3 linked regions of the Homo sapiens genome follow. The protein of the gene in region 3 interacts with the protein of the main gene of each other region in a pairwise test. Each region holds a gene or a part of one and is shown on either strand. Other genes may lie near its edges.

Region 1 (3,719 bases), on a different chromosome or scaffold from region 3:
AGTAAATAGTCCTGAGTCTTAAGGAAGACAGAAGTTCTAAACATTTTATACTGATTCAGTTCATGAAGTTTTAAAAAAATCAGATTATCTGTTTTTATATACAAAACATCCCTTGATTATCTGGGACAAATTAACTAAAGTCCAAGAGTCCTGGGGCAGAATGGTTCAAAGCCATGGAGGGCAGAGTGGGGAGTGCAAGGGCTCATATTGGAGCTCTCCAGTTGATGTGTTCTCCTTCCTACCCAACCCCTTTACTCCAAGGAGGATCTCCTCACCTTTAATCATCAATCTGCCCCCCAGAACATTAGTTTGGTTTTTAACTGTGATTGAATTATCTTACAAAGAGCTCTGATTGAGGCAAACCTACACAAGCTGAATTAAACCTATTTATGCTTGTGGTTATAAATAACACAACAGTAGAAATGGTTTTTTAGAGAAGAAAAGCTTATGACATACAAATTGTATGTTTTTCGAAATGAGAGCTTTTATACGCTTCACTGAGAGTTAAAAATTAGTTTTTTTCTCCCATGAAAATGACAAAACTTTATACATGCCTATGTTTGCTATCTTAAAGAATTAAAACATTTCATATAAAAAATAAGCAGTTTGACCTTTTAAACTGAGTTTTGGGGTGTGTGTGTGTGTGTGTGTGTGTTGGGGAGGGGTGACTGTTCTTTGTGTTCAGCATTGATAAATAAGCTTGTTCATTTCTCCTAAGCAAGCTGGCAAAGGAACAGGATGGGCATTGTGCCATTTCCCAGGGCTTCATGGCCTGAGTGGAAAGTGGACAGTGGGGTGTCTGGGCTTCACTTGGATGAAACCAGCACATCCTGCAGGGCTTTGGGGAGGAGGGTGTGGACCCAAATGTGAAAATATTAGAAAAAACACTGAAGCGCTAAAGAAATGTAAGAGAAAGTATGTTCTCACAGCCCCAAGGCCAAAGAGTAGTGAAATAAGCATTGTTGCTCCTTATGAAAGATGGCACAGATGCCAGGATGCAGCTGACAACATAAAGCAAGAGTCTTGCCATCTTCCAACAAGTGACTTTTCTTCTAGGAATCTATCCCGTAAATAAATAATCAGAAATGCAAAGATTTACATTCACTATTATTTATAATAGTGAAAAATACAGGAGAGAAAACCTTACATAACAAAATAGAATGGTAAGTAAATTATGATTTCATTGGGAAAAAGGAATTCTGTATATCATGATTAAAATAGCCATTATAAAGGTTCCTGAAGAAATTTTATCACATGGAAAAATGTTCATGACATAATGTTAGGTGAAAAAAGCAGGTACAAAATTATACATACTAATAATATACCAACTATATAAATATGCACATATAAAATTAGAGGAAATACATAAGTAGTTTAACAAGTGTTATGTGTGGGTGGTTGATTTTAATTTCTTATGCTTTTTTTATATTTTAAAATTTTTCCATAATATTTTTATTTTTAAAATAAAAAGTCATTAAATGAAAAAATCTGGTTATTTTCTGAATAAAAATATTTTTCTAATAGAAAAATAGAAAAAATATTTAAACATTCATTTTAGTTATATAATTGGGTTTTAACAGGAATATGGCCAATAGATTTTTTGATAAGTGACATCATTTTAAATACTAGAAAATCGGAAAAATTACTGTGTTTGTTTCACATTCAAAATTCCCATTAGTACAGTTCGAAGTCCCCCCGCCAAGATTAAGACTCTGGCATCATTTTACACATTTTTCTTAGGAGTAGAATAAAATGCTTTGTCCAAGGACCTACTTATTTTCCACTTTTGCAGCATACACTTGGTCTTTCTCCACTGCTATGTGGCGCTCTTCAGACACGCTGTAATATAGAATCATCTCTTCCATCAGAACTTCCAACTTATGTATCTCCTGCCAAGGCTGGATGACGAAGTAGCCTGGGTGACAGGCCACAGGCACATACACATCCATGTGTTCCCCTGGCTTTGATAAGTGGACAGGAGGTGGCAGTTCCTCTGTGGAGAAAGCGCTCGTATGGTCCACCATGGACTTTTTGATGACATCTGTGAGGTTCTTTCTGAAATTCTCTCCAGTGTTGCCCGACATGGGCATGTTGCCATTTTTGCTGTTGGGAGAGTCAGCTCCACTGGATATGGCACTCAAAAACACATCCTTCTGATGCTTCCACAAGTCTGCATTTGTAATCTGGCGATTAATACTGCGATGAGGGTCAGGGAAGTTCTTAGGGGTAAATAAATAAACATGTGCGATCCCTCTGGTTTCATCCACTTTTGTAACCTTTGGAAAACACAAAAAATGATATAAGAAATACAAGTTCACATTAAATTTTGAGAGGCAGTTATAGTAACCTTAATCATTAAAACACAGTATTTTGCCAAAACCCTTGCTAAAATCCATTTTATTTAAGGAAAAATAAATTATCACAGCTTGGCAATGAATGGGCTCTGAAGTCAAAATAGTCTAGGGAACAGTGCAGCCTTATGGAAATAAAAAATTTACTAATCTTTAAAAAGTCTGAGAAAACTTTATAACTTGCTAAGGTCATTATCATTGACAGAAAGGATTCTATATATCATGATTAAAATAGTTTAAATTAATGATATTTCGAAACACTTAAAGTAGAAATGATAAGTATGATGAACCCTGATATACTCATCACCCAGCATCAATAATAAAAAACAATCACAATGATGGCAAAATGATTTATGAGCGTTCTGCTTAAGGCTGGTGTGTCCTCAAGACTGGGAAGGGAAGGAAAAAGCTCTGACAACCACCATATCTGTAAGCACCCCTCTTTCAAATTCCTTGTCTGGTCCTAGTATATGTCCTCACCCCTTTCCCCATCGCCAATTACATGGGAGGAGAGGGACCTGGGGAGAAAAAGAGGAAGCAAGCTCCACAGAACGGGTCAAAATTAGTTTTACACTTTTTGTCCAGGAGACCTCTGACTACCTAACCATCTTTGCTCTTTCGGCCAGAGGGGTGTTTGTATGGAAATATCATACATTAATAATTGGGACTGTACTGCTGTGTGTCCCAAGGAGCTAGGTGACTGTTGGCTATTCTCATCAGCAACTCTGGTTTATCTTAGGAATGATAAAAATAAGATACTTCCAGCCACATTTATCTTTTACCAAATAGGGCTAGAAATGAAAGGCAGGAACACAGGTCTGCGGAGAGGGAGATAACAGCAAGGCAACCCATCTACAGTGATTTACTTAAAATTTCTTTTTTTTCCCAACAAGATGCCTCTATTACATTCATCCTCTGAAGTACTAATTAAATACTGACTGCAAATTCATTTTGAAATTTATAATACAGAAGTACAGTTTTAAAAATTAACAAAAAGTACTTTTATTGAGTAACCATCCAATATTCTGGCTTTAGGAGCTTAAAGAGTAGCTGAGAAAACAGTATTATCATGTGACAACTGAAGAATATGGAATAGTATATAATTAAGCATGTAATTGTACACTATAAACCCCAGAGGAATACAAAGACAGAAAAATCACTGCTAGCTAGAATAATTTAGAGGTCTTCATGAAGATATTTTTCAAGGACATTTCATTTTAAATGTTTATATAAAACAGTCATACAATTTCCATCAGTTAACAGAGAAAAACTATCTTCTTAAATTTGTATTCTTGGATATATGAGCAATGTTTTTGATTTAAAGATGCAAAAGTACAGAAAAAGAAACAAGAGCTAGTGAAATAAGTA
Region 2 (3,500 bases), on a different chromosome or scaffold from region 3:
TGGCCCACAGACCCTGAGGTGTTTCCTTGGTGGCTCTTCACAGAATGTTTGCTGCCCCTAGTATAGAGGGTAGAGCCTCCTGGGTAGGGCTGTCCTGTGGCTCACTGTTTTTTGTAGGCCAGGTACCCCCTTGACACCTGACATCTGCCTCAGTCCCCTCACAGTTCAGCCTTCAAACTTGAGTCCTCTGTGTCATATGCCTAGACCCCCCACTTCTGAGGAGAAAGCCTCAGCTTTCTCCTTTCACGATCCCTTCTCTCTCGGTGAATGGCCAGTGGGTTGGGCTCTCTTGCCCCCACCCATGTTGGCATTGCTTGCCTTTTAGGTACCCATGGGACGGCTCCTGTTTCTCCCATTCTGAGAGCATCTGCTTATAATTCTAGGGCCTGTGTTTGGAAGCAAAGATAACTTCCACGGCTTAGCCATCTTCCTGGACACCTACCCCAATGATGAGACCACTGAGGTAGGCCCCTGCTCTATCCTGCTGAGCAGGAAAGGAAGGACTGGGCAGTCGGCTAGAGGAGGGGGCCCTGGGACTTCCATGGTCCCAGCACAAGAGGAGCCTCCAGGGATTGGGGTGGTGGGTGCCCCTGCTCGCCCCACAGGCTGGGCTGCTTGTGGAGTAACCGATGTCTTGGTCCCAGCGCGTGTTCCCGTACATCTCGGTGATGGTGAACAATGGCTCCCTGTCCTACGACCACAGCAAGGATGGGCGCTGGACCGAGCTGGCGGGCTGCACGGCTGACTTCCGCAACCGCGATCACGACACCTTCCTGGCTGTGCGCTACTCCCGGGGCCGTCTGACGGTGAGCAGGCTAGGCGGTGGGGGTGGCAGCTGGTGGCCCTGTGCTGGTCCCACAGAGGCTCAGGAGGGCAGGCTGCTGTCCTGCGAGGTGCTTAGCGTGCTGGGCCCTGCAGGTGATGACCGACCTGGAGGACAAGAACGAGTGGAAGAACTGCATTGACATCACGGGAGTGCGCCTGCCCACCGGCTACTACTTCGGGGCCTCCGCCGGCACCGGCGACCTGTCTGGTGAGTGGGCCGGGCCAGGCGTTGGTTCCCAGCCCAGCTCACCCTGAGGGACTGGGAGCTTTCCATGCAGTTGATTGCCTGCCTTCATGTGGTTTCTGAGCTCACCTGGCTGTGTTCCTCCTCCTCCTTTCTTCTGTAAATGGCCTGTCCGGGCCTCAGTTCCTGTGGTTTCTGGGCTCACCTGGCTGTGTTCCTCCTCCTCCTTTCTTCTGTAAATGGCCTGTCCGGGCCTCAGTTCCTGTGGTTTCTGAGCTCACCTGGCTGTGTTCCTCCTCCTCCTTTCTTCTGTAAATGGCCTGTCCGGGCCTCAGGCCTTGAACGGTCCCTTGGCAACCTTCCCCATCAACAGGAGGCAGCGGGTCAGTTAGATTTGGGCAATGTAGATTCCCAGATTTATCTCCAGCCCAGACCGCTCTGGACCTGCTCAGCCCTTGTGCCCACAGCTGAGGCCACATCTTGCCCATCGGGATGTCAGTGGCACCTGTGCCCCTCTATTTGCTTGCTGTCTTTCCGGACCCTTCTTTCTCTCACATGGCACCTCTGGTCCATCAACAGTCCCTGTGGCTTTATTTTCACAGCACGTCTCACCACTTCCCTCCCCTCCCTGACTACCTGGCGGCTTCAGGCCACCAGTGTCTCTCACAGGAGTCTCCCAAGTGGTCCCCTCCTTCACCAGCCCCCAACAGTCTCTCGTGAGCACAGCAGCCGTGTAATCGCCTTCAGTAATCGCCTTCAGCCCGTGTGAGGCCTCCTGCTGCTCTGCGCAGAGCTCTGCAGGGGGCGCCAGGGCCTCTGTGCCAGCCCTGCCACCTCTGGCTCCCTGCTCACTGCTCCCCCTGCCTACTGTGGCTTCCAGCTGCTGCCTGGATGCGCCTGTGCCCTCCTGCCCCGGCTGTTTCACCCTTGTCTCCTAGGGCCTTGCTCAGATGTTACCTCCTCAGTGCGGCCTTCCCTGATGCCCTCGTGGAATGTCGTGCCCCCTCCTGTGTCCCCAGCCCACTCCCCAGCATCTTTGCTGGCTTTATTTTTCTTCATAATATTTACCATCTTTGAGTCTACCGAGTAATTAATTTTATTGTCTCTGGCCCTCCTGCTCAATTGTAAGCTCTATAAATGGCTGTTTGGCCCAGGGCAGGTGCTCAGCGAGCACTGGGGTGCCTCTAACCTGCTCAGGCCTCACTGGTCACCAGGCCGTGGTGGCCCTTGGCTGTGGTTCTCGGTTTCTCTTTGGGGCCCTGAGCAGGTGCCAGGCCCAGGGCCAGCTCCTGACCAGAACTGGCACGTGACACGGGGGACCTGACATGGGCGGTTTATCCTCAGGATGACCCATTCCAGGGCCTGTAGTCTGCCCACTGCCCAGGAGCCTCCTCTCTCAGCATGGAAGTGCTTGGGTCCGCTCAGACCCCAGAACATCCATTGTTTGGGGGTTTTTCAGTCACATACCCAGCAGAGGAGAGAGGTCTGGTAAGCACCCTTCCTGCCAACCAGCTTTCATCATTTCCAGCTCGCGCCTGGCTGGTTTCCCTCCTGCCCCGGGTTGCCTGGAACTTCATCACACTGTTTCAGCCCTTGTCTTTGGAGGGTTCTTGATAGGAGCAGAGCAGCACCAGTGCTGTGGCCGGTGGCAGCTCTCACAGCTGTTGGGAGAGCCCAGCACAGAGTGGAGGAGGCACCATGAGGGGAGCCGTGTCTGACCACTGGTCAGGGGTCATCAGTGCCAGGCACCTTACGGGTGATGTCACCTGATGTATTTTTAGGCAGATGGCCATCTCGTTCCCTTTTTACTCAACCATTGGGAGTTTGAAAACTGAAAGGATTTTTCCTAAGATACGAGCAGGAAGCAGCAGAGCCCAGATGGGAACTGGGGCCTGACTCCAGGGCCGGTCCTTGTCCTGCAGGGCCGCTCGCCGTCTCCAAGGGCTGTGCATGCTCGGCTCTCACACTGTGTGCCTGGCCGAGCTCTTGCTCATTAGGTCCCCCCTTGGCTCCAGAGATTCCTGCTCCCTTCAACAAGGCCTTTCCTCAGATTCCAGTCCCAGGCTGACCAGGACCCACGTGTCGGCTTTGAGCCTCAGCCTCCTCATCTCTACAATTGGGTGATCCATCAGCGTCAAGCCAGGGCTCTTCCCTGTGCATGCCATTGGACAGAGCCTTTCCCCAGTCTCCTCAGGCACAGCTGCTGACCTGCGTTAGGCTCAGGCCCTTAGCTGGTTGCCGAGTTGTTCCCCTGCAGCCTGTATGTGGGTCTCTGTGGCAAGAATGTCTGGTGGCTCCTGCCCTTGGGACCTCAGCCTTCTCAGCCAGTCACACAGCGACTGTTGGTCTTTCCCGGGTCTGTTTTTGAGCACTTATTCTGCAGGCAGGCCATCTTCTGTGTGGTGTAGACCCTTCTCATGTACTTGCCATGGCAACCACACAGATGGAGATCATCACTCCTCTACATGTGCGGAACATGAGCCTCAAAGAG
Region 3 (4,409 bases):
ACATCTCCATCACTGACTAGTAATCCAAAAGGCTCTGAGGTTTTAACGAATGGGATTGGTCCAAAACCTGACCTCACTTTCATTTAATTTCATGCCAGCTCCAATACACACCCAGCTGCGGAGACCTTGTCTAGCTAGTGAGCTGCTCAGACACAAAGGCGCTCTAATTACCATCCACAAGCCAGGCTGACAGAGATTTCAAGTGTTTTCATGTTTATGGAGATCAGAGAAATGTGTTCTGTACATCTTTTTCACTGATGGCAAGTATAAAATAAAACCAAACAAAAAACCCAACACATTTATTCAAAGCAGGCATTTCAGTTAAGTTAAAATCCTATAATCAGGATAGCCACAATTCCAGACACTCCGGTGCGAAGTGTAGATATGTCAGTAGCCACATCTGGATGATGAACAAGCCATTGACTATAAAAACGAGAACAACAGCACAGTCTCAGCGCCTTTAGAGTGAGTGAACAGTATGTTCCAAGCACTTCACCATGGTTCACAATGGCAAAGCCTGCAGCTTCTCCATTTGGAGGGTCACATTTTCTACTCGGTTTCCTGCACTTACAAAGGCCAGCTGGCATGGCTGGGGGAGGGGCAGAGGGAGGAAATCAACTCGTCTATCCAGGGAATTGCAGCTGTTATTGCAAATGGCCCCGGAGAGCCCATTATAAGCTGCTGTGCTAGGCTGTGTGTCCCTGGAGTGTCCATCACATGGCGTCTCCCTAGCCCCCAACCCAGGCCCCCAGGATCCCAGAGCCACCCGCTTGAGTAGGACTGCAGAGCCGAGTAGGAGAGGAGGAACCCAGGGCCCGGTCTCGGGAGTTTCCGTGAAAGCCCGGAGCGCGGCCAGGGGCGGTGGTCGCCTACCGAAGCACAGCCGCCCAGCACGTCCGCGCTTTCCCACACCCGCGGTGGCGGCGACGCGCGTGTCCTCAGGAGACTCCAGCACTTGCAAAACACTGCGCTCTTCTCCGAGCACCGGCAGAACCTGGCTACTCTGTCCCGCAACCCAGTGCGTGCCCAGGAAACAGTGACCTTGAACCGAGGAGAGGCGGGCCGGCTCTGAAAATACACTTTAGACAGGGCGTGGGGTTCACTCCGCGCCTCTCTACCCTTCCACCACCATTCAATACTCCCCGCCCCCACCTCCTTTCCCCACCCGTGTCGTACAGCCTTCCCCCACCACTCTGAGAAGAGAGACAGTTGCAAAGAGAGCGCAGGGGTTAACTCCTATTCAACCCCCAAAGGGTCCCTTCATGGCACCGCATGTTTGGTATTAAGCAGCACCTCCAAAGACACAAGATGGTTTTTTTAAGTCTGGCAGATTGGGCTGCACCCTGAAATTATCTACTCATGTTCTCCTCCCCCAAAGTGGATCAGGAGCCAGCCCTGAAAAGGTAAAGCAAGTAACTGGCATCATCCTCCGTGGTTCCGGCGCACCGCGATCCGGAGAAGCGTGGATTGTGGCCACATGGTCGCGGGGCTGGAGGGCACTGAGAGGCTGCGAGGAAATGCAGGCTCCGCGGCCAGGTCGGGTCACGCCAAATAAGGAGTCCTACTGACTTGTACGTTTGAGGTGCGCTCTGTAAAATCTGCCTTAAATAGGGCCAAAGTCCTTCATTCCAAATATTTTGGCCCTCAACCCCAGTTACCCGCGAAACACTCGCGATTTTTCGGTTCCTCGTCATTAGCTTTTTACTCTCGCTTCCAAAAGCCAGAGTTCTCCACCAGCCTGAGTAGAACTGCAGCCCTCAAGGGAACCCCTTGCCCTCCAGTCTGAGGCTGGCGCTGTGGCCACCCCGGGCGTGTTAGCTGCCAGGCACAAGAACGCCGTCGCCAGTTCTGAGCTGCGCCCTCCCGGAGGCGCCAGGGTCACTGCAGGCCGCGCGAGGGCTGCGAGGCGAAGGGGGTTCATGCACCGGGGCCGACAGAGGTCCCAGGAGCGGGCGTTGGGGAAGCTTTGCACGTAACTGCAGCCGTCGCGAATGAAGCCTTCGCACGGCCTCCTTGATGAGGTTTCCAGAGAGCACTAGCTGCTGCAGAAGCCGGTGCGGGTCGTCGTCGCCTGTGCGGGTTTCTGGTTGGGACCCGCGTCGCTGCTGCAGGCGGCGGGAGGCGGCGGCGCCCCGGAGCCATCCTCGCCGGCACGGACCCGACAGCGGCTGCGGGATGCCCTGCTTGCCAGCTCCCGGAGGCCCATCAAGGTCGGCCTGAGGGGGCAGTGGGGACAGCGCGCTGGGGCCTGTGGCGAGCTCGGCCACGCAGTAGGGCGCAGCGCGGCCCCGCACGCGGCCGCGGTCCCCCAGGGCGCAGCGCAGGACCCCAGGGGGCGCCGGGCCCACAGTCTCCGCCAACGCGGGCGGCAGCAGCAGCGGCACCGCCGGGGACCTGGCCTTGTCCGCCGGCACCGCCGCAGCCAGGGGCCCCGGGGCCCGCAGCGGCGCCCCCGGGGGCCCGCACGGCGAGGCCGGGCTGTGCTGCGCCGCGTCCAGCTGCAGCGTCTCGCCGATCTGGGCCACCAGCCGGTCCACCTCGCCCGAGCTGCCCAGCGCCACTGACTGCTGCAGTAGGAGGAAGCTGTCCTCCTCCTCTTCCTCCCCCTCCGCCTCCTCGCCGGCTTCCTCTTCCTCCTCCCTCCGGCACGGCATGGCCCCCTGTCTGGGCACCCGGAGCTGTGCGGGCGTCGCTGGGGGCTCGGCTGCCGGCGGGCGCGGTGGGCCGCGGCGGAGCGGGCGCGGAGCTGAAGACTAAGTCTGGACCGGGGCCGGGGCGGACGCGGAAGCCGGAGCCCGCCAGGCACTCTAGCCGCGCGCCTGCAGCCGCGGGAGCCGGAATCCTGCCGGCTCGGGTTGATTTGTAAACAATGGGTGACGTCACGTCGGGCCCTACCACCGCGCCGGGGAGGGGGTGCTGTGCCGCTGGGGGACGGCGCTTCTGTGGGATTGGGGGTCTGGGTGAAGCCGGACTGCCTTCTGAGCTCCTTCGCTCAGGGTGCTGTCTGCAAGGGCGCCCTGGGGACCTGATCCTGGCTCCCGCAGTCGGGCGCGATTGGCATTTCCAGAAATGGGCACCAGCGTGAACCCTGTTGGTTTCTTCCACACACAAGCAAGCACGCACACTAACACACACCCACCCACCCACACACCCCTTCTCTCCGTGCGTCAACTCAACCGGTTTTTAGCGTTTGCGCTTTTGAGGTCCGGCATGCGGGCGTCTGGTGAGGATGGAAAGGAAAGGGAGTCAGGCTAGGGATTTGTACGGAGATTAGGGAAATGAAGCTGACGGGAATGGAAAGGAAGAAGGGGACCTTGTCGTTCGATGGAGGTGGCAGAGTTGGAAATGGCAAAGAAAGGCCACAGATTAATGTTTTTTGATCGAGATCCTGGGCGGATGGGGGCCTGGACTGGGGTTGGCATTGCTGGAGAGGAGGTTGCTAGTCTTTTTGTTTATTTGTTTGTTTGTTTTTTTGAGACGGAGTCTCGCTCTATCGCCCAGGCTGGAGTGCAGTGGCTCGATCTCCACTCACTACAACCTCCGCCTCCTGCGTTTAAGCAATTCTCCTGCCTCAGCCTTCCGAGTAGCTGGGATTACAGGCGCCCACCACCACGCCCGGCTAATTTTTGTATTTTTAGTAGAGACGGGGTTTCACCATGTTGGCCAGGCTGGTCTCGAACTCCTGACCTCAGGTGATCCACCCGCCTCAGCCTCCCAAAGTGCTGGGATTACAGGCGTGAGCCACTGCGCCCGGCCTAGGTTGCTACTCTTTTTGTTTTGTTTTGTTTTTTTGAGACAGAGTTTCGCTCTTGTTGCCCAGGCTGGAGTACAATGGCGCAATCTCCGCTCACCACAACTTCCGCCTCCTGGGTTCAAGCAGTTCTCCTGCCTCAGCCTCCCGAGTTGCTGGGATTACAGGCATGCGCCGCCATGCCCAGCCTAATTTTGTGTTTTTAGCAGAGATGGGGTTTCTCCATATTGGTCAGGCTGGTCTGGTACTCCCGACCTCAGGTGATCCACCTGCCTCGGCCTCCCAAAATCCTGGGATTACAAGCGTGAGCCACCACGCCTGGCTATAGGTTGTTAGTCTTAAGAGGGGCTATGTCCAGAAAGTTGTTTAAAAAAAAGCCTCAGACCAGTAGGGGGGATGGGCTCTGAGGAGGTACGTAGTAGCAGAGAAAAATACCTGTTTGGATGAAAATGGAGATACGCTTCCTTCCTTCCTTTCTTCCTTTTCTTTCTCTTTCTTTTCTTTCTTTGACAGAATTTCACTCTGTCACCCAGGCTGGAGTGCAGTGGTGTGATCTGGCTGATTGCAGCCTTGACTTCCCAGGATCAGGTGATCCTCCCACCTCAGCCTCCCGAGTAGCTGGGACAATAGGCACGCGCCACTACACCTGGCTAATTTT

The links.
Region 1: the proteins of FRAT1 (region 3) and TDRD7 interact in a two-hybrid assay, tested with the Homo sapiens proteins (one large-scale study listed by BioGRID and IntAct).
Region 2: the proteins of FRAT1 (region 3) and LMAN2 interact in a two-hybrid assay, tested with the Homo sapiens proteins (one large-scale study listed by BioGRID and IntAct).

The regions. Positions count from the first base shown.
Region 1 is NC_000009.12:97,481,406-97,485,124, reverse strand, and holds part of TDRD7 (tudor domain-containing protein 7), read right to left. Parts: intron 2,277-3,719; coding exon 1,774-2,276; intron 1-1,773. UniProt on the Homo sapiens protein: Component of specific cytoplasmic RNA granules involved in post-transcriptional regulation of specific genes: probably acts by binding to specific mRNAs and regulating their translation.
Region 2 is NC_000005.10:177,334,669-177,338,168, reverse strand, and holds part of LMAN2 (vesicular integral-membrane protein VIP36 precursor), read left to right. Parts: intron 1-383; coding exon 384-463; intron 464-644; coding exon 645-806; intron 807-918; coding exon 919-1,033; intron 1,034-3,500. UniProt on the Homo sapiens protein: Plays a role as an intracellular lectin in the early secretory pathway. Interacts with N-acetyl-D-galactosamine and high-mannose type glycans and may also bind to O-linked glycans.
Region 3 is NC_000010.11:97,317,699-97,322,107, reverse strand, and holds FRAT1 (proto-oncogene FRAT1), read right to left. Parts: upstream 2,838-4,409; 5' UTR 2,655-2,837; coding exon 1,815-2,654; 3' UTR 193-1,814; downstream 1-192. UniProt on the Homo sapiens protein: Positively regulates the Wnt signaling pathway by stabilizing beta-catenin through the association with GSK-3. May play a role in tumor progression and collaborate with PIM1 and MYC in lymphomagenesis.